Homo sapiens: one gene and its partners. The protein of the gene in region 1 interacts with the protein of each later gene in a pairwise test. Each region holds a gene or a part of one and is shown in the gene's direction. Other genes may lie near its edges. The genes, in order: FAM124B, SH2B2, KCTD6 and GPRASP2.

Evidence for each region.
Region 2: the proteins of FAM124B (region 1) and SH2B2 interact in binary tests that used the Homo sapiens proteins (3 or more experiments, as listed by UniProt).
Region 3: the proteins of FAM124B (region 1) and KCTD6 interact in binary tests that used the Homo sapiens proteins (3 or more experiments, as listed by UniProt).
Region 4: the proteins of FAM124B (region 1) and GPRASP2 interact in binary tests that used the Homo sapiens proteins (3 or more experiments, as listed by UniProt).

The regions. Positions count from the first base shown.
Region 1 is NC_000002.12:224,399,079-224,406,119, reverse strand, and holds the start of FAM124B (protein FAM124B), read left to right. Parts: upstream 1-4,012; 5' UTR 4,013-4,351; coding exon 4,352-5,083; intron 5,084-5,614; coding exon of another isoform or gene 5,615-5,701; exon of another isoform or gene 5,702-5,743; intron 5,744-7,041.
Region 2 is NC_000007.14:102,317,841-102,322,216, forward strand, and holds the end of SH2B2 (SH2B adapter protein 2), read left to right. Parts: intron 1-2,490; coding exon 2,491-2,662; intron 2,663-3,458; coding exon 3,459-3,790; 3' UTR 3,791-3,871; downstream 3,872-4,376. UniProt on the Homo sapiens protein: Adapter protein for several members of the tyrosine kinase receptor family. Involved in multiple signaling pathways. May be involved in coupling from immunoreceptor to Ras signaling. Acts as a negative regulator of cytokine signaling in collaboration with CBL.
Region 3 is NC_000003.12:58,487,833-58,495,100, forward strand, and holds the start of KCTD6 (BTB/POZ domain-containing protein KCTD6), read left to right. Parts: upstream 1-4,263; 5' UTR 4,264-4,337; exon of another isoform or gene 4,338-6,576; intron 6,577-7,268. UniProt on the Homo sapiens protein: Probable substrate-specific adapter of a BCR (BTB-CUL3-RBX1) E3 ubiquitin-protein ligase complex mediating the ubiquitination and subsequent proteasomal degradation of target proteins.
Region 4 is NC_000023.11:102,708,493-102,715,471, forward strand, and holds the start of GPRASP2 (G-protein coupled receptor-associated sorting protein 2), read left to right. Parts: upstream 1-3,955; 5' UTR 3,956-4,060; intron 4,061-4,347; exon of another isoform or gene 4,348-4,514; intron 4,515-4,598; exon of another isoform or gene 4,599-4,637; 5' UTR 4,638-4,725; intron 4,726-5,289; 5' UTR 5,290-5,357; intron 5,358-5,696; 5' UTR 5,697-5,774; intron 5,775-5,916; exon of another isoform or gene 5,917-6,044; 5' UTR 6,045-6,377; coding exon 6,378-6,979. Other genes in the region: ARMCX5-GPRASP2 (G-protein coupled receptor-associated sorting protein 2), read left to right, coding at 6,378-6,979. UniProt on the Homo sapiens protein: May play a role in regulation of a variety of G-protein coupled receptors.

The DNA.
Region 1 (7,041 bases):
CATGTTCTGAAGTCCTCATAACACACTCCACTCTCCATTTTGCCCTGGGTGCCACTTAAACATTGCTTGTCTCTTAAACTGGGTACTCCTGGAATCCTATCCTCTTCCTTCTTCTGTCCTTGTTGTGTCTTCTCTTTCTGGGTAGTCACATCCTTTCCCATGGCTGCCTGAAGACCAGCAGTTCCCCAATTCCTATTCTCTGGTTTACTGTTCCCTTCAAAGCTGTAGTGAACAGGCCACTGGACATCTCAACTCTGGCCATCCCACGGGCATCCATGCACAACACAACCACCCTGCCCTCCTCATCCTCACTCCTAACTGCCCTCCTTTCCAGTATTCCTTATCTGGTGACTGACAGCTTCACCCAAACATCTGCAAGTACCACCCTGGAATGCCTCCTGGACTAGCCACCACGGTTTTCTGCCTGCATCCAACCAGCCAACAAACCTGTCCTTTGACTGCATATCTTGCTGTGTCCGTGGCTTCCTCAAAGCATCACTTCCCTTTTCATACTGACTTTTAGGTGGTTCTGGTCAGATTCAAATAAAGTGTTCTGCAAGGCCCTTCCTGATCAGGCCCCTGGCTTCCTTCCACCCTCCTCTTCATTGAACCTCCACTCCAGCCACCTTGAACTGCTTGCAGTTGCACCAGTGTGTGACAGTCCTGGCCCCCTCGTCTAACTCAGTGTCTCCCCATGGGGTCTCCATACATCCTGCAGCACCCTTTATCATGGCACTGACTGCATCATTTAGGGTGCCCCTCCAAAGTGGGGGATGGTGACGATTCTATCTTCTGCTCCTGGTGCAACGCCTGGCTCTTGACATGTGAGATAAACATATTTTATAAATTAAAGATGGAAAGGAACTTTTTCTCAGAGTTTTCCTGGGTTGGGGGTGGGTGGGAATCTCGAGGTTATAATGCATCCCATTGTATTTTGTAGAAAGGACAAATCCCCGAGGATTTTCATGGGTTCCAATGGAGCCTCGGATTTTCTAGGTTTGCTTGAGCGACTCATCACCAGCCTCTCCATTTGCTGTGAGGAGTGGACCAACCATCTGCCATCCAGGAGCTGATGACTGCAGAAACCTGGGCATCATTGCCTGCCAAGTTTAAGAAAAATAAGATAGAGAATTGGAGTGACAGCTGTCCGGGTGCTGAGAGTCAAAGCTGATGATTTCCCTTAGTATTTTTGTCTGTGCCTTCAACAGAAGCACCATGCTAAAACACTGTTGTGCTGCACAGCTGAGAATCTGGCATTTGTTGTGGGTGGAAGGCAGTGACCAAAGGTGGAGGCAGTTTGGGGAAGGTCAGTCAGTATTTCACGTTGTTCCTGGGGAAATAATCACAGAGACAGCCAGTCAGAAATGAGGCTGGTCCCCCTCTTCCCTGGCCTCCTGCCCCTTGGATTTGTTGGCACTTTGGCTGCCAACAGATTAATGAAATCTTTTCAATCCTGAAAGAAATGACAACCTCATCAGGAAAAAAGTGTATTTTCAGCATTAGATGGAAGATAATATCAAGAAACAAAATCTTTTCCTATGTAAGAGCTTTAATACTTACCTTGTGCAAAATGTTGTGAGTTAATATCGTGGTTTCAGGGGAACAATTTTTCTCCTCAAATCTTTAGAGTTATTTCCAGAATTTCAAAGCCTATTTCAAAAACTATAGTTTTGTCTAAAGTACAATCAGCTCTGTGAATGGAAGGGTTGCGGAAGGGAGAGTGTTCACACTGAGAGATGAGATAGTTATCTGCTTCCAATGCCAATGCATAACATGAATGCTGTCGAGTTTTTTTTAAAAAAGCTTGAGATTTGTAATGCCAAAAAAAAAAACCTCTAATGATTTTTTTAAAAGTTGAAACAAGATGAATTTAATTACTGAGCTGCTCACAATAACTAGGAAACAATTCCTCTGTTATAAATTGTATTTATGTATTTTTCCCATGCAAAAAGTACAGGAATTATGAAACACAAATGATTAGAATTGTACGTTAGATTTACATAGTGAATCTGAATAGAAATAACTCCTTTTCTTGGATAATAATATTTTACTTTAAATTAGGTTGTTATACTATTAAAGGAATCCAGATATATAAAGTTGTTATATTTTTCATCACAAAAGTATTTTTTAATGTAAAAAATTGTCACACTGTGTTTCATTATAAGGATTCATAAATTTGCCTCTTTTATTTTAATTTTTTACAGCTCTTTTTGAAGTACATTTTTTTTCTTTGAGACAGGGTCTTGCTCTGTTGTCCAGGCTGGAGTGCAGTGGCATGAATTTAGGTCAGCACAGCCTGGAACTCCTGGGCTCAAGCGATTGTCCTGCTTTGGCCTCCCAAAGTGTTGAAATTACAGTTGTGAGCCACTTCGCCTGGTCCAATTGCCTCTTTTAAAAAGAATTGTGTTTAGAAAAAGTGCTTGTTCATACCTGTTGAGGAGCACAGCTATCAGGAGAGCAAATGATTTTTTAAAAATATTTATTTATTTATTTATTTTTATTATTTTTTATTTTCTGAGACGGAGTCTTGCTCTATCACCCAGGCTGGAGTGCAGTAGTGCGATCTGCAACCTCCACTTGCTGGATTCAAGTGATTCTTGTGCCTCAGCCTCCTGAGTAGCTGGGATTACAGGCATGCTCCACTTTGCCCGGCTAATTTTTGTGTTTTTAGTACAGACGGGGTTTTGCCATGTTGCCTAGGCTGGTCTCGAACTCCTGACCTCAGGTGATCCACCCGCCTCGGCCTCCCAAAGTACTAGGATCAAGGCGTGACGACTATGCGTGGCCACAAATAATTTTTAAATCAATATTTAGAACACATTTAGGGTGAGTGTTTAGAGCTTGACAACTTTCTCATTGAAGATTATTCCGTTTAAGATTCAACAGCTCAAGAGTCTGCAAATCTAGATCCTTAACCAGAACTTGCTTTTATATCTTTTCCTTACAAGAAGAATACCCAGGCTGGGACTTCAAGGCCCCAGAGAGGCAGTGCAGCAAGTTCCTGGGTTCAAATCATCCTTCAGCTACTTCTTAGCTGTGAGACCTTGGGCAAGTTACCTAGCCTTTCTATGCCCCAGTTTCTTCATCTGTAATTTGGGGCTAGTAATCTCTTCTTCATAGGTTTGTTGCAAGATTAAATTAATTTACATTAAGGGCCAGGTGTGGTGACTCATGCCTGTAATCCCAGCACTTTGGGAGGCCAATGCGGGCAGATCACCTGAGGTCAGGAGTTCGAGACCAGTCTGGCCAACATGGCAAAACCCAGTCTCTACTAAAAATACAAAAAAATTAGCTGGGCGTGTTGGCGCACTTATAATCCCAGGTACTGGGGAGGCTGAGGCAGGGGAATCTCTTGAACCTGGGAGGTGGAAGTTGCAGTGAGCCAAGATCACGCCACTGCACTCCAGCCTGGGCGACAGAGCAAGACTCCATCTCCAAAACAAAACAAAACTAATTACTTTAAGAATTAGAACAGTTTATGACTGGTACATAGTAGATCCTCATTAGACACTAAAAATTATAATTACAATTGTTAATTATAATTATTTATTATTATAATTATATGAGCAATTATAGGAAAGCTCTCACTCTTTCTAAAGAATTTGCGTGAATAAAGGAAGACTAATTTTCTCAATGTCTTTTTAGTACACTCAGAATTTTCGGTACAGCAAATAATTTTCAGTGAAGTCAAAATTATTTAGATAAAGTCTTCTCTTCGTGCCCTAGCAGAAAATGTTCAGAAACAAAATGAAATAAAGAGACAAAGGAAAAAAAAAACTGGCAAAGGGTCAGGTTTTGAGAATTGTTTTCAAGAAGTCATTGTATTCAGATTGGTGGAGCAGGCTACTGTAAACCGTAAGTAGGAAATGAGAACCCGTTGTAAGTTGATAAAATGGATGTCTTTTCAACTAAACAGATTGCTATCAGCCTAACAGAGCCAACTCATGTTCCTTTTCGGCCGGTCATTTCCTGTACTAAGTGTCTATAAGAGCCGCCCATTTGGGTGTTTCTCAGGATTATAGGTTTTTAGGTCACGCAGAAACCCTGGGGAACGCCTGAAAAGGCTAAACACAAGCAGTTACATTATGCACAAGCTGGATGACGTGACCCCGCTGCTGCTGTGTGGAGAGGGAGGCTGCTGAACCCGAGCTGGTGTGAGCTTCTCTTGCCGTAAGTCCACGGGTGGCCAGGAGCACGTGTTAGTCTGGTTAAGAGCTCTGCTCAGAAGTAGCCGCTGCAGCTGAAGGTTTTCAGGCGGGCTGAAGGCTGGGCCGCTTCTTCATTCATTTCAGAAACTTGAACAGTGGGCCTTCTACACACGCTGTCTTTGTCAGCCTCAGGCAGTTCCTCCATGGATGAGACACAGGGGCCTCTGGCCATGACTGTCCATCTTCTTGCCAACTCTGGGCACGGCTCCCTTCTGCAGAGGACTCTGGACCAGCTCCTGGATTGCATTTGCCCAGAGGTCCGGCTCTTTCAGGTGTCTGAACGGGCCAGTCCTGTGAAATACTGTGAAAAGTCCCATTCCAAGCGGTCCCGGTTTCCAGGGATGTCCGTGTTGCTCTTCCTGCACGAAAGCCCGGGAGAGGATAGGCTATTTCGCGTCCTGGACTCTCTCCAGCATTCGCCATGGCAGTGCTACCCCACCCAGGACACTCGGGGAAGGCTGTGTCCCTACTTTTTTGCCAATCAGGAGTTCTACAGCCTGGACAGTCAGCTGCCCATCTGGGGGGTGAGGCAGGTGCACTGTGGCTCCGAGATCCTGAGGGTGACGCTGTACTGCAGTTTTGATAACTATGAAGACGCCATCAGACTCTACGAGATGATCCTGCAGAGAGAAGCGACCTTGCAAAAGAGCAATTTTTGTTTCTTCGTGCTCTATGCCTCCAAGAGCTTTGCTCTGCAGCTCTCCCTGAAGCAGCTGCCCCCGGGAATGTCAGTGGACCCCAAAGAGTCTTCGGTGCTGCAGTTTAAGGTTCAAGAGATCGGCCAGTTAGTGCCTCTGCTACCCAATCCATGCATGCCTATCAGCAGCACCAGGTGGCAGACTCAGGACTACGATGGCAACAAGATTCTGCTTCAGGTATTTCTGTTTTGTCTCAGATCTTGTAGAGGCTCATGGAGCTGTGTAATTTTACATCGGAATGGGCCTAAGCTAGTGGTTCTCAGACTTGGTTGCATATTAGCGTCCCTTAGGGTCTTTCATAAATTCCCACCCCAGGGCAGTTTGATCCGAATCTCTGGGAACATCCAGGCCTAGGTAACTTTTTTACAGCTTCTTGGATGACTGTAATCTGTAACAGGGTTGAGAATCACTGATCTCATAAAATCTCATCTGACAGATAAGAAAGTTCAGATTCCATGAATTTGCAGCTGACACAAGTACTTTATAGTAGAATCAGACAGGATTCTACTATAAAGATCAGAATCCTATTAAAGAATCGGCCTCCTTTCTCAGGCTTGCCGTTTAAATGCCCATCAACTATACCCCTATCCTTTGTTTACTCTTTGGGCTCAGGAATGTCACAAGCTCTTCTAATCTGACTTAAGGAAGTTGAAGTCATACTTATGTTTAGATATGGTTTTTTTAATTTTTAATTTTTTTATTTTTTAGAGATGGGAGTCTTCCTCTGTTGCCCAGACTCGAGTGCGGTGGTGCCATCATAGCTCCCTGAGGTCTTCACCTTCTGGGTTCAAGTGATCCTCCTGCCTTAGCCTCCTGATTAGCTGGGACTACAGGCACGTGCCGCCATGTCTGGCTATTTTATTTTATTTCTAGAGACGGGGTCTCACTATGTTGGCCGAGCTTGTTTAGGGATGTTAAGTTTGCAGTACTATTGACTTAATTTTTATTCTTTATTATTATACTTTAAGTTCTGGGGTACATGTGCACAAAGTGCAGGTTTGTTACACAGGTATACATGTGCCATATTGGTTTGTTGCACCCATCAACTCGTATTGACTTAATTTTTAAGCATCTTGCATCACTGTCAAATTTTACCACATACCAAGTTAGATAGAATGCTTTCTTAAAAAAACTTGAAATTAAAGCCTTCCTTTGTAACCATCCTCGAAAACCTAACATAGCATGTGTGTATTTAGTCATGATAGCTGCCGTGCATTGCCTTTCCATGGTATGTGAGCCTGGGCACTTAGTAGCTGTATGACTGTGGGCCTCAGTTTCTTCATTAGCACAATAAAGGCACCCGAGAATTAGCATCTTCCTCTCTCATACTTACTTACAGGAAATGACCTGACACTTATAAAGTACATAATTAAGATAGTGCCAAGAACTCAATTTTAGCTATTATTGTTCATATTATGCCCTATACTAAGGATTCTCTTAAATTGATAATTTTATTTAATACTTATAACAACCTATGAAGTTACTATTTTTCCCATTTTGGAGATAAGAAAACTGAGCTTTCCAGGGGGTCAGTTATTTGCCCAAGATAGGAAGTATCTATCTACCCTCAAAGTTCATGTGGTCAGCCGCTGCAGTCCAGTGTATGTGTGTAAATGTGCAAGCAGGGGGATGAATGTCATGTTCACAGCAAAATATCCTGTGGCTTCTGTCCTTAAGAAATGGTCAGAAGCTCCTTAAGGCCTATTGAATAAAGTAATAAGAGACTACAAGATGAGATGTCTTTCCATTTGGTTAATTTTGTTGTCATCACTTTGACTTGTTAATAAAACATGAATCATATTCCATATTAAATGATTTCTAAATTATTCACCTTCTTGCTCACATAAGGTAGACAGGCACTGTTTCTGTTAGTTGCCTATTATAAAACCCCATAATTTCCAAGGCATCTAAAATTTCTTTCAGTTTTAGCGACTCTCTAGTACTTAAAATCAACCTCATGGTCAAACAAAAATGTAATGTGTGTGTGCAGCAAGGGACATGATTTTAATCATTCCTGTCTTTAAGGCTGACTGACATTTTTGCTATGGAACCACAGTTTAAACAACTTAGTTACTTTGGAAAGTTGAGTCACATTTGGGGAGTGTAGAAGAGTTTTTTGGATAAAGAGAAACTCC
Region 2 (4,376 bases), on another chromosome or scaffold:
CCCTGCCCAGGTTAGGTCACCAACCCCTGAGGAACACACACGGGCAAACCCTAGAGACCCAGCAGGGGAGGAGGAGCTGGGCTGGGTGGGAGAGCTGTGCAGGGTCTAGGGGGTGGGGTTCAGCATTGGAGGGGACAGCCTGATCAGAGACCTGCAGGGGAGGGAGAATTGTGGAGGGGAAGACAGTCAGGAAGGCGATCCCAACAGCACCCAGCTGGATCAGAGGCATGATGGTACACCCAGGCGGTGTGCTTTCAAGGAAGAGGATTCCTTGCTATATTGACCTGAAATGCTTTGTTTTTGTTTTTGTTTTTTTTTGAGACAGTCTCGCTCTATCCTCCAGGCTGGATTGCAACATCGCAATCTCAGCTCATTGCAACCTCCGCCTCCCGGGTTCAAGCGATTCTTGTGCCTCAGCCTCCCAAGTAGCTGGGATTACAGACACGTACCACCACACCTGGCTAATTTTTGTATTTTTAGTAGAGACAGGGTTTCACCATGTTGGCCAGGCTGGTCTCAAACTCCTGACCTCAGGTGATCCACCCACCTCAGCCTCCCAAAGTGCTGGGATTACAGGCGTGAGCCCCCACGCCCGGCCTATTGACCTGAAATTCAAAGGAAAATTTGACAGCAAAGGCAAATGATTATGGGGGGGTGCAATGTGGCCAGAGGGGGCAGGAACCTCAGTGCCCACCCCCGCATCCCAGGTTTCCGATAAGGAAACACTCAGCCTGGGCTCCTGCCAGGACGGATTTCCTGGCGGCCCCTACTAGAGGAGGGAGAACCTTAGGACTCCTGCTCCAGGCCTGCAGCTGGGGGACAGTGTCTCTCTGCAGGGACCCCGGCTGCCCTAACCCCTAGTGGCTCAGTGCAGAACCTCTGGTGGCTTCTCTCCTCCTCCAGGTTGGCCCCACCATGCAGGAGGTAGCACCTCCACCAGGGACATTTCCTTGGCAAGCAGCCACCCTTACAGTTCCTCCGACAACCAGGTGCTTAAGGCCATCCCTGGTGACGTGCAATTTACTTCTCAGCCAGTGCTGCTCCAGGCAGCCTCCCAGAGGGCCTGGATCTGACTCATGCCCAAGCCAGAGGCTAGGATGGGGGAACAAAGGGTGGGTGGCAAGCTCCTCTCCTTCCTGGAACAAGACCCAGCCTTGAACCTGCCTCTCACCTCTCTACCCAGCTGCTCTTCTCCCAGAGTGGAGATGACTGCCCCAGGCCTGATAAGTAAATGGTGGGACAAAGCAGGAACCCCAGCCTCCAGCTTACATACCTCCTGGGAGGGAAGATCACTACCTTCCCAGAGGCAACTCTTTCCACCTTCACAGAATAAATGTCTGGAAGGTCTGGCAGAAGATTGGGATGCGTCCAACTTGCTTCTTCTCTCCCCAGGGACCCAGCTGTGCCCTGCGCAGGCTCTGCCCAGCTATGAGGCTGTGGTGGGACCCCTCTGTGCTGTTTCTTTCGGGCTGAGTCCCTGCATTGTCCTAGCAACTTATTCTGCTAAGTGGCAGAGCTCACTTGTGGGACCGCCACCCCGCTCCAGGGATTGTCTGTATTTTTTTGTTTGTTTTTTAAAGGGTTGGGGGGTATCTCACCATGTTGGCCAGGCTGGTCTTGAACTCCTGACCTCCCGTGATCCATTCCCCTCAGTCTCCCAAAGTGCTGGGATTACAGGCGTGAGCCACCACACCTAGCAGATTGTCTGTCTTTTATGCAGGTGGCCAGACCAGCTCCCCCTCCTGGGCTTGGGGCTATGCGTGTACCCTCAAACCACTCCTCTTAGCTCCCCTCTTGCCCCACACACCCCAGAGATAGCCACTTGTTTCTGCAGTGGGATACATGTTGAGCAAAATAGGGCTTAAGTCAGAGACCTGCAGCTCTCCACTAGACACCACAGGCCTATGGTTTCTTACCCTGAGGCACCTGCCTCACACAGGCCCTAGAGACCTAGAGAGAAGCCAGCCCTGTTCCAGCTGTTCCCACAGCGTGCGGTCACTCCTCCCCAGCCAGCCCTGGGGAGCTTTCCATGCCTCCGGGTTTTGGCTCTGCAGGGACAGAGGGCCAACCTCTAGCCTCCTGGGCTGGGGGAACCACCCAAACAGGAGTTTTCTTCCCTGCTCTGTGCTCTGTGACCATGGGCCAGTCACTCCCCCTCCCTGGGCCTTGGTTTTCCTATCTCTAACATGGGGGCAGTAATCCCTATCTTCTGGCATTAGGGAGGGGATTAGAGATTATAGGTGTGTAGGGCATGGGCCCATAGTGGAGGTGCTCCCAGCATGGGGACAATGCCTGATGCCTTCCATCTCAGCCTGGGTCCGTTGCCCCCATTCCCCATCTCCAGATGGGGCTCATGTGTGAGGGGCCCCCGGCCCTGACACAGCCCCATACAGCCCCTGTGAGCCTTGGTCCTTCCATCAACCCCCAAAGGCGCTTACCCAGGTGCCCAGCCCCGGACCTGCCCCTGACCACACCCACCTGTACCCACAGCACCTGCGCCTGTCCCTGAACGGCCACGGCCAGTGTCACGTACAGCATCTGTGGTTCCAGTCTGTGCTTGACATGCTCCGCCACTTCCACACACACCCCATCCCACTGGAGTCAGGGGGCTCGGCCGACATCACCCTTCGCAGCTATGTGCGGGCCCAGGACCCCCCACCAGGTAAGATGCCGCCACCTGGCTGGTGTGATTACTCAAGAAGACTTCCCGTTGATTACTCAAGAAGGTGGTCCCTGGGGTGGGATGAGCCCCAGGTCTCCTGTCCCATAGCCTCAGCCGTGTCCCTCCCACCCTAGCCTAGCCACAGCAATTTCAAGCAGTCACGTCATAAGGAATGGAGGCAGAAGTGGCAGCCTAGAGGCAGCCAGGTCCCTAATGATTCCTGGCAAGGGGAAGGGGGCGCCCAACAGCAGTGCAGGTGGGTGTATGGGGGTGGGGACAGGGGTGTGGATTGGGGCAAGTGGGATGAAAGGAGCTGGGCATATGGATTCTTAAGCCCTGCACTGGGGAGGCTCAGAGCAAAGCTGCTGGGACCGAGCACTAAGGGCATGGGTGCATGTGCATGCGTGTGCTTGTGTGTGTGCATGAGTGTATGTGTGCATGTGCCCGTGTGCGTACGCTTACGTGTGCGTGTGTGCGCATATGCATGAGCGTGTGCATGCGTGCATGGGCACGCGTGTGCTTGTGTGCCTGTGTGCGAGCGTGTGCATTATGTATGCGTGTGTGTGCACTCCTGTGCATGTGGCTATATGGGCGTGCACACGCGTGGTTAGGTACATGTATGTGTGTGTGCTTCTGTTTATGCATGTGGGCGGGTGTGCTTGCATATGTGTCCGAGGACATGGGCTGCAACTCGGAAACCTGAGCGTGGGCCCTGGCCCCTTGAGGGATCCCGGCCTCCCTGCAGGATGTGGCCAGCCCAGGTCCCCACTCACGCCCTGCCGTCGCCTTGTTGCAGAGCCGGGCCCCACGCCCCCTGCCGCGCCCGCGTCCCCGGCCTGCTGGAGCGACTCGCCCGGCCAGCACTACTTCTCCAGCCTCGCCGCGGCCGCCTGCCCGCCTGCCTCGCCCTCCGACGCCGCCGGCGCCTCCTCGTCTTCCGCCTCGTCGTCCTCTGCCGCGTCGGGGCCCGCCCCCCCGCGCCCCGTCGAGGGCCAGCTCAGCGCGCGGAGCCGCAGCAACAGCGCCGAGCGCCTGCTGGAGGCCGTGGCCGCCACCGCCGCCGAGGAGCCCCCGGAGGCCGCGCCCGGCCGCGCGCGCGCCGTGGAGAACCAGTACTCCTTCTACTAGCCCGCGGCGCCGCCCGGGTGGGACACGCCAAGCTCTTCAGTGAAGACACGATGTTATTAAAAGCCTGTTTTAGGGACTGCACCCGGCTCTCCTGTCGTCCTTTCTCCCACGGGGAAGGCGGGGACTGCGGGGCAGCCACTCTCAGAGACACCCGTCCATCAGGGACCCCCGTCCAGCCCAGTGTGGCCTGACACCTGCCAGGCCCCCTTGCAGCTCTGTCTCTGGTGGGACAGCTGAGGGACTCCCCATGGGGCGTCGGGCAGCACCTGAAAGAGGGCCCAACAGCAAGGGTTAGGGCTTAGGATCGGGAGGGGGCTTTACTGGAGCTGTGAGGGAGAGAGATGGGAGGTGGTAACAATGAGGGGTGCTGAAAAGAGAGGAGGGGGCATTCAGGACACAGTGAGGGATGGGGAGCACGCCCAAGTCATACGGAGAGCTTGGATGCCAGGAGGAGGAGTCGAGGCCCGGACTGGGAGGGTAAAGGCGTTTTTAGACAGATCTATGAAGCCTGGCGGTGTGGACAGGGCGGCAGGGCAGGAAGAAGCCTGGCGGTGTGGACAGGGCGGCAGGGCAGGAAGAAGCCTGG
Region 3 (7,268 bases), on another chromosome or scaffold:
GGGTTGATCTGTGGGACCATAATCATATGTGTGTCGCTTTTGAGGCTGGGTTATAAAAGACATTGTGGCTTCTATCTTGCTCTCTCTTGGGTCACTTGCTCTGGGGGACGTCAGCTACCATGTTGTCAGGAGAGACTCTCATGACAAGGAATGAATGCCTTATGCTGAACGCCACATGAGTGAGTTTGGAAGGGAAGTCTCCAGGCTTCAGATGAGTGCAGCTCCTGCCGCCAATTAGACTGCAAGCTCCTGCGGGACCCTGAGCTGCTTCCAAGTTCCTGAGCCACAGAAACAGAGGGGAAAGCACTTGGAAGCCGTTTTAAGTCCCTACCTTTTGGGATTATTTGTTATGTGGCAAAAGGTAACTGATACAGTGGGTAAAAGCACCTAGCACAGTACCTTGTACAGAATTGGGGCTATAGAACAGACAAGATCTATAGCTCTGGATTCAGGATAGAGGGCTGGGCTGGAGACAGGGATTTGGAAGCCTTTGGCTCAGACACAGTAAAGGAATCCATGGAGGTGGCTGAACCATTCCATGGAGAGGGGTACATGGAGAGGAGGGGATTGTGTTGAACAGGAACTTGAGCTTAAGTGTCGGGGTAAAGCAAGAGGAGCATCTTTGTAAGTCTAAGAGGAGGAGCTATGGAAGAAGGAGGAGAACATGCATCCTAGAAGCCAAGGGAAGGGGCTGTCCCCTGGCAGACGTCACTGCAGAAGCCTTGCTGCGGAGAGGCCTGAGCCATGCAGGTCGGAGGAGGTTCTTTCAGATTTAGTATCAAGGAGGATTCTGGTGAGCCATTTAGATGGAGAGGTGGGCCCTGAGGCCAGATTGAATGTTACGGGTTGGGGTCTTAGGGGAAGTGGGGGGACACAGCAAAGGAAGAGAGGGAGGGGGACACTGTGTCGAAGGAGAAGTCTGAAAATTCTTGAGTCAGGGACAGAGACCTGAGGCTGTTTATCTGCTGATGGGCGTGGGAGATGGGGACTGGAGAGAGGGAGGGATGGAAGATCTGAGCCTGGAGAGGCTAAAGGGTGGGAGAAGGAATGGACTAGAGCCCAGGGAGGGGATCACCTGGACAGGAGGTGGAATCCCCCAGCCATCTCATGAGGGGAGGACAGTGCAATGCAGGTCATTCCAAAAGAGGGCAGAGGAGGGTTCTAGGGGGCTCCCACTGAAGGGGAAAGGTTTTCCTGACAAGTAGGAGGTGAGGTCGGCTAGGCAGTGAGAGTTGGGAGAAGGGAGAGAGGGAGGGGACTCAGATCTCCACACTTCATTGTCTTGTCAACTGCTGGTGCCCCTTTGCCCTCCCAGCACCGTGCTGGGCTTGGTTCCTTCCTGTAACAGGTGTAGCTGCAATAATAAACAGCCCCCTCCAGGTCAGCCTGGCCCCAGGGCAGACCAGGATCAGTATCTTTACCACAGGAGCCTGGATACTTGGTGGCCACCTGGAAAAGAAAGGTGCAGAGGGTCAGGGGCAGCTGTAAACCAGAAGCCAGCCTTCCCCAGCAGGCTTGCAACCCTGAGCTCTGTGGAGGCAAACAGCTTCCAATATAAACCCTTTCCACCCCCAACCCCCCAAACCAACAGATCCAGATGGTTTGCGGGAGAATCCTATAGAACATTCAAACTACAGAAAATCCCAGTCTAGTGAATAGACACTCATTCCTTAAGGTATGTTATGAGGCTCATGTAACTTTGATAGCAAAGCCAGACGAGGAGAGAATAAGCAAATAGTAGCATATCTCAGTCATCCACGTGGATACAAAAACCCTAAATGAAATATTAGCAAATGGAACCCTAAATGAAATATCAGCAAATGGAATCTAGCGGTATACTGAAAAAATAATACATCATGACGTGTGAAATTCCTTGAATAAAAATGCATTGACTTAAAAAAATACATTATCAAGGCGAGTTTATCCCGGGAATACATGGATGGTTTAATATAGTAAGATCCATGGTTGTAATTCATTACATTGCAATGGGGGGAATCTCACATTGATAAAATTCAGCACCCATTCATAGTAAAGAAGAATAGTGCTTCCTTACCCTGATAAAGAATATCTATCAAAAAATCCACAACAAACACTATAGTTAATGGTGATATGTTACAAGCAGTCAAGAACAGGATAAAAATGCCCATTACCATCACTGCTCTTCAACATTGTGTGAGAGAATTTAGTCAGCACAGTACAGCAAGAAAAAGGAAAAAAAGGACAGGAAGATACCACACTGTTATGACTTGCAGACTCTATGATTATTTGCACAGCGAATTCAAGAGAACCTACAAACTTATTAGAACTGAAAGAGTTCACTTTTGCTGAATATAAGATTATATAAAACCCAACTGCATTTCAATAGCCATCTATCAATTATAAAATACAAAAGTGAAAGTACAATTAGCACTAGTTATAAAAATTTTAAGATAGGAGGGACTAGGTCTGACAAAATCACCAACAAAATTAATCCATCAGTTTTTATATGGGGAAATAGAAGCCCTGAGAGGGGAAATGACTCTTTCAAGGATACCCAGTAAATCAGAGGCAATTCTGGGTTTTCAGTGGCACCAAATTCTGGAGATCTGAGTATTGGGTAATTTTGGTATTGTCCTTCTATTAAAAAACAACAAAACCCAGTGGGGTGGGGAGGAGTGGGGGGCAAAAAAAAAAAAAAAGAAAAACCAAACCAAAACTCATTGTATTTTTCTGATTATAAATTCAATATTTATGTGTTCTGATTATAAATTCAATATTCATGAAAATTCAGAAGAACGTTATGAAGTAATGCCATTAACATTCCCATACTGTTATCTTGAACACGATGGTCAATGGTTTGATGTATTTCCTTCAAAATTTTTGTCTGTATATATTTATGTTTTTAAAAATAAAATCAGGATATCATGTGTACTAGTTTGTGTATTGATCATTTTCACACACATTTCCCTGTATTCTCACCTAGTCTTTGTGAATTTGATAATGTAGCACTCAGTTATGTTGATGAAGCATATGTCATTTATTTAACCTATCAATTTGAGCTTTTGGAGACAAATCAAGTATCAGATATAACTGTGATGATCATGCTGATACAATTTCAACCCCAGAGCTAGCTCACACACATGCAGACGTGAAACCCAAGTGAGTTTCTAAGGCCAGTGGTTATTCTGGTGGAGAAGGTTAAACCCAGCATCAGGTAACTGGTCCCACCGGAAGGGGACAGTGGCCTGGCTAGCAGGAAGTGAATGGACTTGGAACGAGTGGACGGATGGAGACCAATTAGCCCTGAGGCGTTAGGTGCTGCCCATCCTCTGCAGCCTTGGCTTCCTTCCTGGTGAAGTGGGGACAATACCAGCGCCAGTCTCATCTAGGGTCGAGCTCCTCCAGGCCCCAGAGCCTTTGCATGGGTCGTTTTGTCTGCTGAAGGTAGCTCTGCCCTTCTCTCCACCTGGCTGCCCGTGTTGCTGAGCTTCTGGGCCCAGCAGCCCTTTGCTGTCTTGCCCGTCAGGCCGGACCAGACCGTCTTGCCCCGGTGGCCCCGGGGGCTTCTTCACAGGCCTCATCGCAGGGTTGTCTCCCCAATGCAGGGCAGGCAGGAGGAGCTCTGGCCGCAGGTCGGGGTCCAGGTCTTCCTCGGCCACTGCGTTTGGAGCAGGGGCTCCCTTCCCTTCTTCTCCATCTAAGTCCTCTAATCATGTCCCTCCCAACACTTACGGCCATAACTTGTCATTATTTTGTCTATTAGCTGTTTCCTTGAGTCTTGTCTGTCTTCTCCTTTGATTAGGACCCGCCTCCGTCTTGGTGGCCGCTGTATCTCCTAAACCCCCAGGCCTGAGATATAGTGGGGGGCCCATACAAGTTCGTGAAATGACTAAGGAGAAACAGCTGTGGAGGCACCACCCCTGAGGACGCAGTGGGCCTGGGGTTGGGCGGACCCCAGGCTGCGGGCGGAGGCGGGACGTAGGGGCGGGGTTTCGGGGCTTCGGAGCGGAGCCTAAGGGGCGGGACTGGGGCTTCGGGGCGGGGCTTCGGGGCTGCGGTCGTGTGGTCTTGACCGCGCGGCTCCGACTGCGCTGGCTGAGTTCCTCAGGCCGCCCGCTCTCTGGCTTCCAGCCCGCGCTGCCGTTAGGGGGCGCCCGCGCTCGTGGCGCCGCGGCTCTGCTGGGAAGGCGCCGCCCGCGCCGGGCAGCTGGAGCCGCAACTCCGGGCGCGGGCTCAGTCGTCCCCTCTGCCGCCGCCGCCGCCGCCGTCGCCGGGCGCGGGCTCGCTTGTCCCCGCGCTCGCGCTCTCCGGCCGCGGGCATCTCCCGGCCCGGCCGCAGCAGCCGCCGCCGCCGCGCAGTGAGTGGGGCTGGCGCGGGGCTTGCGGGGCCGGGGTTTGGGAGGGCCGGGTTTCAGGAGACGTCTGCGCCGAGCGGCCAGGGGAGCGGGGCTGAGGAGGATCTGGGCGGGGGCTCCTGGAACGGGGCGGCGGCGGGGCCGCGTTGAGGGGACCGCGCGTCCCGGGCTGGCACGAGCCAGCAGCGGAGGTGCCCGCGGCGGGGCCTGGGCGGGGGTTCCGGGGCCCGCCCGGCGGGGATGCGCGGTTTCTGCGGGCCCGGGTTCGGAGCCCCGCGGCGCGCCCCTCGTCCGGGCCCGGAGCATCGCCCGCCCTACCCCTGGCCGGGTCGGGTTGCGGGGGCTTCGCTGGCGGGGCAGCAGCGAAGGGCGGCCCGGACGGAGATATTTGGGGTGTGCTCGAAAATGATTGTTTTTGGGAGATGGCGCTTATTAGCCACCAATTGCCCTAGTTTAAAGCTTGAGGCAGGACTCAAAACCCTGCCTTTGGGATTTTCTGCCCTGAAGAGACTCTCAGATCGCAGCTGAGTTCTTTATGCCTAGATTTGTGTGTGTGTGGTGGCGTTTTTAATGCTTGATGTCAGAGGTGATAAATGGCCATGGTAATGGGGAGCCCTGGCAGCACCTGCTGGGCTGACAGTGGTGGAGGCTGTGTCTGGGGGTGGGACGGGGAAATGAAACGTGACAGAGATCCTGTTTGGATATTCTGCCGAAGTTACCATGTTTCTGTTCAAGTATACCAGTTCTAGAACAAGTTGATGGATCCAATTTTAGGACTTTGTGATAGAAGAGGTTTGGGTGGCAAAGTGACCTGGGATGACCCGGCTCGGCTAAGAATATTTGGGGTAGCCTAAGTATCTCTTCTATATCCCCCTGGCATGTTCTTTTTTTCGCTGTCACAAATGCCCTATTACTTGAATCATCCTGGGATAGGAGAGAAGCTTGGGGACAGCATGTAGCACAGTCCTGAGCCCAAGATTGAGATGTTTTCAAATGAACGAATATGTAGCTAGGAAAAGGAAAATGTGTTTGTCAGCAGGGTTGGTAGGTTGAGAGTATTTTCTCTTTGGCCGAAACCATCAGTCCATACTGATACTTGATTTTGTGCTATGCCTTAGATATGAACGATGGAGTGGTCAGGATAGCCATGGATGCCATTCCAAAGTTTTGTGATTTGAATTTTCATAAATCATATTTTAACCAAAGCATTACTACTTAAAGGAATCTTAGGGTGAACCCTATGAATCCTTCAGTGCGCTTGGATTTTGATATTTGGGGTCCATTTAAAATGGAGTACCTGTATGTATTTGGATTCAGCTTTAACTTGGAGATAATCCCGAGTCATGCTTTAAAGAAGTTCCTTCTGAGATCAGGAGCTCAGGTGTTTGGTGAACTCTGGGAAAACTAGACACTCCCCTTTACCTGTATATAGTTCTCCCTTCTGGAGCTCTGGGAAAAGGAGGACCTGGGGAGATTTGAAGCAAATTAAGAGGCTGCCTCCTCCATATTTGCCGTCTCCAGGCCAATGCTCTAAATTACTTGTGTTCACACTCAAGTTTCTCATGTTAACCTAGAAATTTTGTTTATGCTGCTGCCACTAATGTTTTCACATTTGTCTAATACTTGCTAGTTTACAGATGGTTTTATATTCATGATCTCCCTTATTTTCTCCATTTCCCCAAAGAAGAAGCTGGGCATAAAGAGTGATTTTCTCAGGGTCTCATAATCAGTAACGGAGCAGAATTCAACTACAGGACCTCCCTGGGAACCTGTTCTCTTTCCTTGTCCTGATGTGTTACTCTTATAGGCCAATTTTTGCCTTTGTGTTGTGCCTAAATGGTGTAATTACCCCGTTTTGGGAAGGTGGTATTATCCCGTTTTATCTTGCGGAAACTGAGGGTTAAGAGGAATGTTATGATTTTGTGACTATTTGTGACAGCTTTTTAATATTAGGTCACTTTTAAACCTATAGCTTCTCTCTTCTAGACCACATGGTTGAGAAAGGAGAAAGAGAAAATGATTACTTGTAGAGAAAAATCCATTTCTGCAGTGGTATGGTTAAGGATAATCTAACCATAATCACATTATCCTTGTATGCCTGGCTACTTATGCTGGCCTGTATGTGAATGTTAACCCCAAAGACTCCTTTAGATGTCGCTGAACTAGTTACTATAAAAAGTATTTCGCTTTCAAACTCCCACATTTCAAGAAGAGCAAAACTCAATACAAGGCAATTTTGAAGGTAAGTATAGAAAGAGGGAGTTTATTGAGTCTTTTCTGACTACCAGACACGAAGGTTTCAGTAAAAAAGCATTTTTAAAGGGCTGCCTGGAAACTCTGGGAAGTCAGTAGTTGGAGTTTTTTATTATTCGTTGGAGGTTTTTATTGCAACATATAGGTAGTTATATAGGATTAGGACTTTTGCCCCGGAGAATTCTTAATCTATAGCAGGAATGATAAACCCAGAATATTTTTGTTAAGTTAGTTCATCATAACCATTAGGCCTGTAATTGCAATTCTGCAGTGATAGGGAGAATGGCATTTAAGGGTTCTTAGGTTATTTTTTTAAGTTATTAACTTACTGAATTATGTATGCATTTCTTCAGATATGCTACTTTAGAAAATTAATACTTCCTTTTAAGGTTTCTATAAATTCTTCAGTATGTGTTTTCTTAAGCTTAATTACCTGCTAACATGACACTGTCAGAATTTATACATTAGTCACAATAACCTTTGAAGCTTAAACATGGTTGAATTTTCAGCACTGCTTTATATTCTTTGGGGAGTGGGCAGTGTTGTTTTCACAAGAATTTTATTTGCATCAAAGGTTACATCTTTTCAGGTGAACTGATTTTTCAGGGTCAGAGGCTTCTTTGAATTTTATAGCTGTTTGTGCTCGGTTGCATTTGCTGTCTTTCAAAACCATCTTTAGTT
Region 4 (6,979 bases), on another chromosome or scaffold:
TAGACAAAGACCTTACCCCTTTCACAGATACTAACCTAAGTTTAAAAGGCAAAACTATGAAACTTCTAGAAGATAACATAATAGAACATCTAGGTAACTTTGGGTTTGTCAACAACTTTTTAGATACAACAAAAGCATGATCCATGAAAGAACAAATTGATAAGTTGGGTCTCATTAAAGATTATTCTCCTCTACAAAATAAACTGTTAAGAGATTGAAAAAGAGAAGCCACAGAGAAACTATTTGCAAAACAGACATCTGATAAAAGATTGCTATCCAAAATATACATAAGAATTCTTAAACTTAACAATAAGAAAACAATCAACCCATTTTAAAATTGGGTAAATGATGGGAACAGACACTTGGCCAAAAAACATATTCAGATGGCAAATGAGCATATGAATACATACTAAATATCACATGTCTGGGGAATTGCAAATGAAAATGACAGTAGAAAGTCCAAAGTTAAGCTAAAAGGGTTAAAACAGGTCCTTGTCCACAGTGAGTAAGAGGGACAAAAGGAAGTAATGCAAGCTGCTGCACAGGCAAGGGATATACGAGTGTGCAAGTTCACAAGCGTGCATGTGGGAGATGGGGTGGGGTTGGGGACAGAGAGGTGGGTATCATGAGTCAGTACAGCTGCCTCTTTGTCCTGGGCTTAATGCTTGTGAGTTATTTGTTTTGGAAATTTAGATTTTAGGAGCCAGTCAGGGTTACACAGGTGCTGGTGGAGGCACTGAGGAGTAAAACCATGGCTGATGCAATCTATTAGACTGGAACACATTTTAAGAGGAAATAAATAGCTTGTACCAGTCAGACAGGCATAGGTCAGCATCTTCTTTTAACTTTTTATTTACTCTCCACTTTAAAAATGACAAACTATCCGAGCTGGTTTCCTCATCTGGTATAAGGAGGTAGTTATAATACATTCTGGTAATAGTCTATAATGTCTTTACACACAAAGAGGTTAGAACAGGGCCTTTCTCAGTTCAGTAAATGTCTATCATAGTCCCTGTTTTCTAAACGAATTGACATCAAATTGCCCAACACGTTTCAAATTCTCACAGTAAAATTGATCAGCTTTTGGTAGAACCACCCCTCTATAGGTAAATATCTTGAGAGCAAGATCCCAGCGCCTCCAGAATTACCACAGTAACTTGTGCTGGCATAGTTTTCGATACATCTGCAAACTTTCAGAATAGGGAATTGAACAGGAAACCACAGGTGAATGTAAGCACCACAAGAAAGGGGATTCATTTCTCTTTGGTTTATACTGTATGCCCACTGCCTAGGAGAAAGTAGGAGCTCAATATATATTTGTTGAATAAATGAAAGGCATCAGTAACGTTATGAAAGGGGAAGAACAGCTCAGGAAGGCAAAGAGATGTACACGCGCCAACAAATTCCAGCAGACCCAGGCTCTGTTCTCCCAAGCCTGTAATTCATTCATGAGAGTATGCTGTGGAACAGAGAAAATCCACCATTCAGTTAAGGCCATGAAAAAGGCAGAGTTAACGTGGTCTTCCTCTAATACATAACATTCATCTCCAGATGTGGTACAGAATCATCCTCACATGTTTTCTTCATATCAGCAAAATATTGTACAGTTATAGTAAATATCTGGTAACAAAAGCTGTATGGAAATATATGAAAATTCATCATAAGAATAGGGCTCCTGGCCAGGCACGGTGGCTCACGCCTGTAATCCCAGCACTTTGGGAGGCCGAGGCAGGCAGATCACCTGAAGTCAGGAGTTCCAGACAAGCCTGACCAACATAAAGAAACCCCATCTCTACTAAAAATACAAAAAATAAGCCAGGCGTCTTGGGGCATACCTGTAATCCCAGCTACTCAGGAGGCTGAGGCAGGAGAATCACTTGAACCCAGGAGGCGGAGGTTGCAGTGAGCCAAGATGGCACCATTGCACTCCAGCCAGCCTGGGCAACAACACCGATAGTCCCTCTCAAAACCAGCAACAACAACAACAAAAGAATAGGGTTCCCTTTTGTACCTGGGAAATATCAGTGGTTTCAGCAAAAAGGAACTTTCTCCAAGATTACCTATAAGGGACATAAAAAAAATCACTGTCCTTTAGGAAGCAAAGAAGAGGCAATTGATGTTTGTAGTGGTGAGGCATGAGCTCCAAAATAGATCTTCCCCAGAGACTGATCCACGGGTAAAGAAAGTCAAGGGGAATAGACTTCATCAGGATGGTGAGTGTATTAGGTTCATACTGCTGCTTTAACCAATTACCACACATAGAAGGGCTTAAAATAATACAAATTTATTATTATCTTACAGTCCTAGAGGCTGGAAATCTGCAAAGGGTTTCATTACACTAAAATCAAGATGTTGCCAGAGGAGCTATCCCTCTGGCATTTCTAGGGAAGAATCTGTTTCTTTGTCTTTTCCAGGTTCTGGAGACAGCCTGTATTTCTTGGATCTTGGCTTCCTTCCATCTTCAAAGCCAACAATGGCCAGTGTAGACCTTCTCATGATGCTTCAATCTGATATTGAGTCACTGCCTCCCTCTTCCACATTTAAAGTACCCTTGCAATTACATTGGCCAAGATAATCCAGCATAATCTTAAATTAAATTCAGCTGATTAGCAATCTTAATGATCCTTTGCCAGGAAATATAAAATGGTACATGTTCTGGAGAACAGGACATGGACATCTTTAGGGGACCGTTACTTGCCAAACACAATAAGGGTAGCACCTAAATGAGTTTTCAAATGGACAGCAGTAACAACAACATCAACTTCGTATTTAACCACATTGCTCTGTCTGTCCCATGCAGGAAGCAGGGAAAGGAGGGGCTCAAGAGTAGAGGACGGATGTTGGGGTGAAAGAAGAGGATTCAAAAGGAGCCAGGTTGCTTTGTCTCGGGGAGGGGGGTGCACGGTGGGATCCTCTCCTGAGAATGACTGCTGAAACAGCAGGTAGTTGTGGCAGGTGGCTGAGATCCAAGCTGGTTCGAATACCAGCCACATTTCCACACTGCCAAATGTCATGGCAAGAGAAGACTTGACAGGGAACCGAAGAGGAGCCAGGACCATCCCTACCTGGCGGCATCAAAGAGAGAGGACTGTTATGACCTCCTGCGGGTCCTGACAGGGAAAGGTCCTCTTCTGGGGGCAACTGTGGCGACGGCGCAATGCCAACGTGAGCCACCATTTGAAATGAGAAAGAGCAGTGTGGCAGAAAGGAATGAGTTTGGTGCAGACCAGTGGTTGGTTTCCTAGGGTTAGAGGTCTAGGTCTACCTTCTTTTAGAAGAGGGGCAGTGGTGAGTCCTTGATGGGAGCCCCCTGCCCCGGAGTTCACTTAAGAGCAGGTGTACCTTCCTCCCCTGCGTGGCTCCACGAAGCTGGGAAAGAAACGCACAAGAGGACCACCCTAGAGCCCCGGGCCTGTATGGCCTGAAATCGCCTCTCCCCTCCCACACTGCAGTGCTGACACCCCCTTTCCCATCAGCTTCCAGAAAGGAGGGTTAGGGGACTGGGGAGAGGGAGGGGGCAGACACCCAGCAGTCCCTGTGAGGGGGGCGGTTGGGGCGGGGGTGCAGACACATCACGGGGCGGTTTGGTATCCATCCGCTGTTCTCTCCAGCGCGGCTCTTCCCGACCTCGCGATCCTGTCCCCTGCCCGGGCCCCCAGCCGCCCGCTGGTCCCATATATTACAGCAGCGACAGAAATATGGTAGTGGTCGCCACGTTAGGGTCCGTGGGGGCCTCCTGAGGCAGCCTGGTGCCAACCCGCACGCCCAGGCTGGGGCTCATCCTGGCCCTGCCCACCTCGGGGTCGGAACTACGGTGGGCCTGGGATGGGGGCGTCAAGCACTTTCGCGCCGTATCCCTCCGCCCCCCTTCCCGACACCCTCGCGGCGAGCGGTTCTTGCCGCATCCTGCGCAGCCCCTGCCTACTTTGGTGCAGAGGCGTGGGGGGCGGGACGCGTCTTTCCCGTTCGGATCGCGGGGAAAGCAGTGGCTCCAAGTGAGCCAGAGGAGAGCTGAGGAGAGGAGGGGGAGGCCGACGACCTGGGCCCTGGGCCTCTGAAGGCAAGTGCGGGTGCATGAGGTGGGGGTCCGGGTTGCGGGGGTGGTCTGGCAGGGTGGACCAGCAGGCAGCCTGCCCCGCGGACCCTGACAGCCTGGCAACGAGGAGACGATCCGGTCGGAGCCAGGCGCTTGAGAGAGGTGCGCAGTGCCCGAGACCCCTGGCGATGGGGAGGCGGTGACCGGAGCGGGCCTGGCCAAGGGCTGAGGGGCTGGCTCGGGAGGCACCGCCAGATCGTTTGGAGGAGAACCGCGCTGACCGCTTCCCAGCCAGCTTTGCAGGCGCCCGCGCCCCGCCCTCGACGGTGTCTGTGCCCGGAGAGGGCTGTGGGGGAGGCTCCTGCGGGAGAAATGGCGGAGCGGGAGCCGCTGTGGGGGCGCCCGGGAAGGCCGTTGGGGGGCGCCCGGCGAGGCCGGCGGGGGTCGGCGTCCCGGCTCTGTACCCAGTCCGCCGGAGGTGAGCCGCGTTTGCTACTCCGGGTCCCGATTCCCGAAAGGGGCCTGTGGGGCCCCATGTCCTCGGTGCCTTCCCTTCCCACAGGCTCCAGGTTGATGTCAAAGTCTTGTGTCTGTGCGGTAGGTCTGGCGTATTCTGACAGGACACAGTGAGCGTCTGTAGAGGAGAGGCTTGAAATAAAGGAGCACGAATATTGCCTGGATTTCTGGAGGTGTGTGGGGATGGGGGTTGGGCGCTAAACACTGATTGGGGACCCGAATCGGGGTAGGGGACTGTGACCAGAGCAAGTCAGGCATCCAGGAGCACCTCCTAATCTTCACCTCTCTAATGGCGCTCCCCCCACCTTCCATCCCCACCTGTCTCCCCCACCGTCCTAAACTGGGGGCATGAAAGGGTGGGCTTTGGAGGTGGGGGTGATGAGGGAGACATACTGACAAGTACTAATTCACAACCTGTTTTCTAGAATATGCGGCGCCCTTCCCCCATTTTATGCTGCGCAGAGCAAGGGGATGTGGCGCACCTAGTGGTGAATCCTCAGAATTGGAGAAGGGAGTAATGGGAAGAATATGACGTCAAGAGAAGGAGTTGTTATCTCTGGAACCTTGAAGCAGGGCCCAAATAAAACGAGAATATTCCACCAGCAAAACCCCGAATGTTGAAAGACAGATACCAATAATATGGGGACTCTTATCCTTGGCGTTGGCCTGTCTACCAAGTGCTCTTCTGCCACCACTCATATCCTGACTGTCTTACTTTTTCATGTGTTTGTCCATAGGCCTACTTTAAGGCTGGCCAATTCTGCAAGAAAGGCAAGGAGGAGGAGACTGGCTCACAGCTCTGGAGGTTAGTGAGAAGGGGGAGAGGACAATGCAGGGGACAGTTGGAGAGAGCATGGCAGGTGGCAGATCCACTTCCACCTGTAGTAGAAGTGGCAGACCCACTTCTATTCTGCCGGATTTGCACAGTGCCAGCATCCTTTTTATTTCTTGCAGGAGACACGAGATAGGTGTAGGTTGGGTTGTGACTCAGAAAAGACCTGAGAGCAGGGACTAGGACACAGGAAACCATAGATACATTGAACTCTTGAATGGGAAGACAGATATTTGTCACAGGGGCCAGAGTGCCCACCTACCTACCAAGCACTCACACTCCATTCTCTCCTGTATGTTCACTTGTCTGTAGGACCCCCTTCTGTCAGCTGTGGGGCTTGACACCACTTGAACAAGAAAAGGAGGGGGAAACTGCACCACATCAGTGAAGGTTGGTATGAGAGCGGGTATACTTTTGGGCGGGGTAGTGGAGACCAGCATGGGTCCGGGAGTGATTAGGGTCCAATCTGGGGGCTTCTTGGCCCCTCCCATTGCCGACACACTTTCCCACCATTGTTGGACCTGTTTTGTAGGAGGCAGCCGGTCCAGAGAGACTTTCTCAAAGCCCAGCTGTCCCACCTAGCATTCAACATCAGTCGCACTGCATACGTCTCATACAATTGGAAGAGACTCAAAGCCTCATTTCATTCTCTCTCCCTAGATCCACCTCCAGTGGCTGCTCTGCTGGTGGTGGAGTTGCTGCTGACAACCACCCTCAACGGGTCTGCACCCATCCAGGAAATATCTGTCTTCCTTTAGCTTGGTTGTACCTGTTCTCACTCTATCTGTATTATTGAATTATTGACTGAGACTGTGTTTGGGAAGGAGGCTGAGTGACTACTGGACTGGATATTGACTCTAACTCTTATTCCCAAGCTTATATCCTTAATCACCTAAAGATCAGAGTGTGAAGAAACAAACCTGTGACAGATCTGTGGTTGAGGTTTAGACTACGGGAGGAGTATATTACCTGACTTTCTTTGTAACTTGTACCATGACTGGGGCAGAGATTGAGCCTAGTGCCCAGGCCAAGCCTGAAAAGAAGGCTGGGGAAGAGGTTATCGCTGGGCCTGAGAGAGAGAATGATGTCCCTCTGGTGGTCAGACCCAAGGTTAGGACCCAGGCAACTACTGGGGCAAGGCCCAAAACTGAGACCAAGTCTGTGCCTGCGGCAAGGCCCAAAACTGAGGCCCAAGCAATGTCTGGGGCAAGGCCCAAAACTGAGGTCCAAGTAATGGGTGGTGCAAGACCCAAAACGGAGGCTCAAGGAATCACAGGGGCCAGGCCCAAAACCGATGCCAGGGCAGTAGGTGGCGCTCGTTCTAAAACTGATGCCAAGGCAATCCCTGGAGCAAGGCCCAAGGATGAGGCCCAGGCATGGGCCCAGAGTGAATTTGGGACTGAAGCAGTGTCACAGGCAGAAGGAGTGTCCCAGACTAATGCCGTTGCTTGGCCACTGGCCACTGCTGAGTCTGGATCAGTTACTAAATCTAAGGGCCTGTCTATGGATAGAGAACTAGTCAATGTGGATGCTGAAACCTTTCCTGGCACCCAGGGTCAGAAAGGAATCCAGCCCTGGTTTGGACCAGGGGAGGA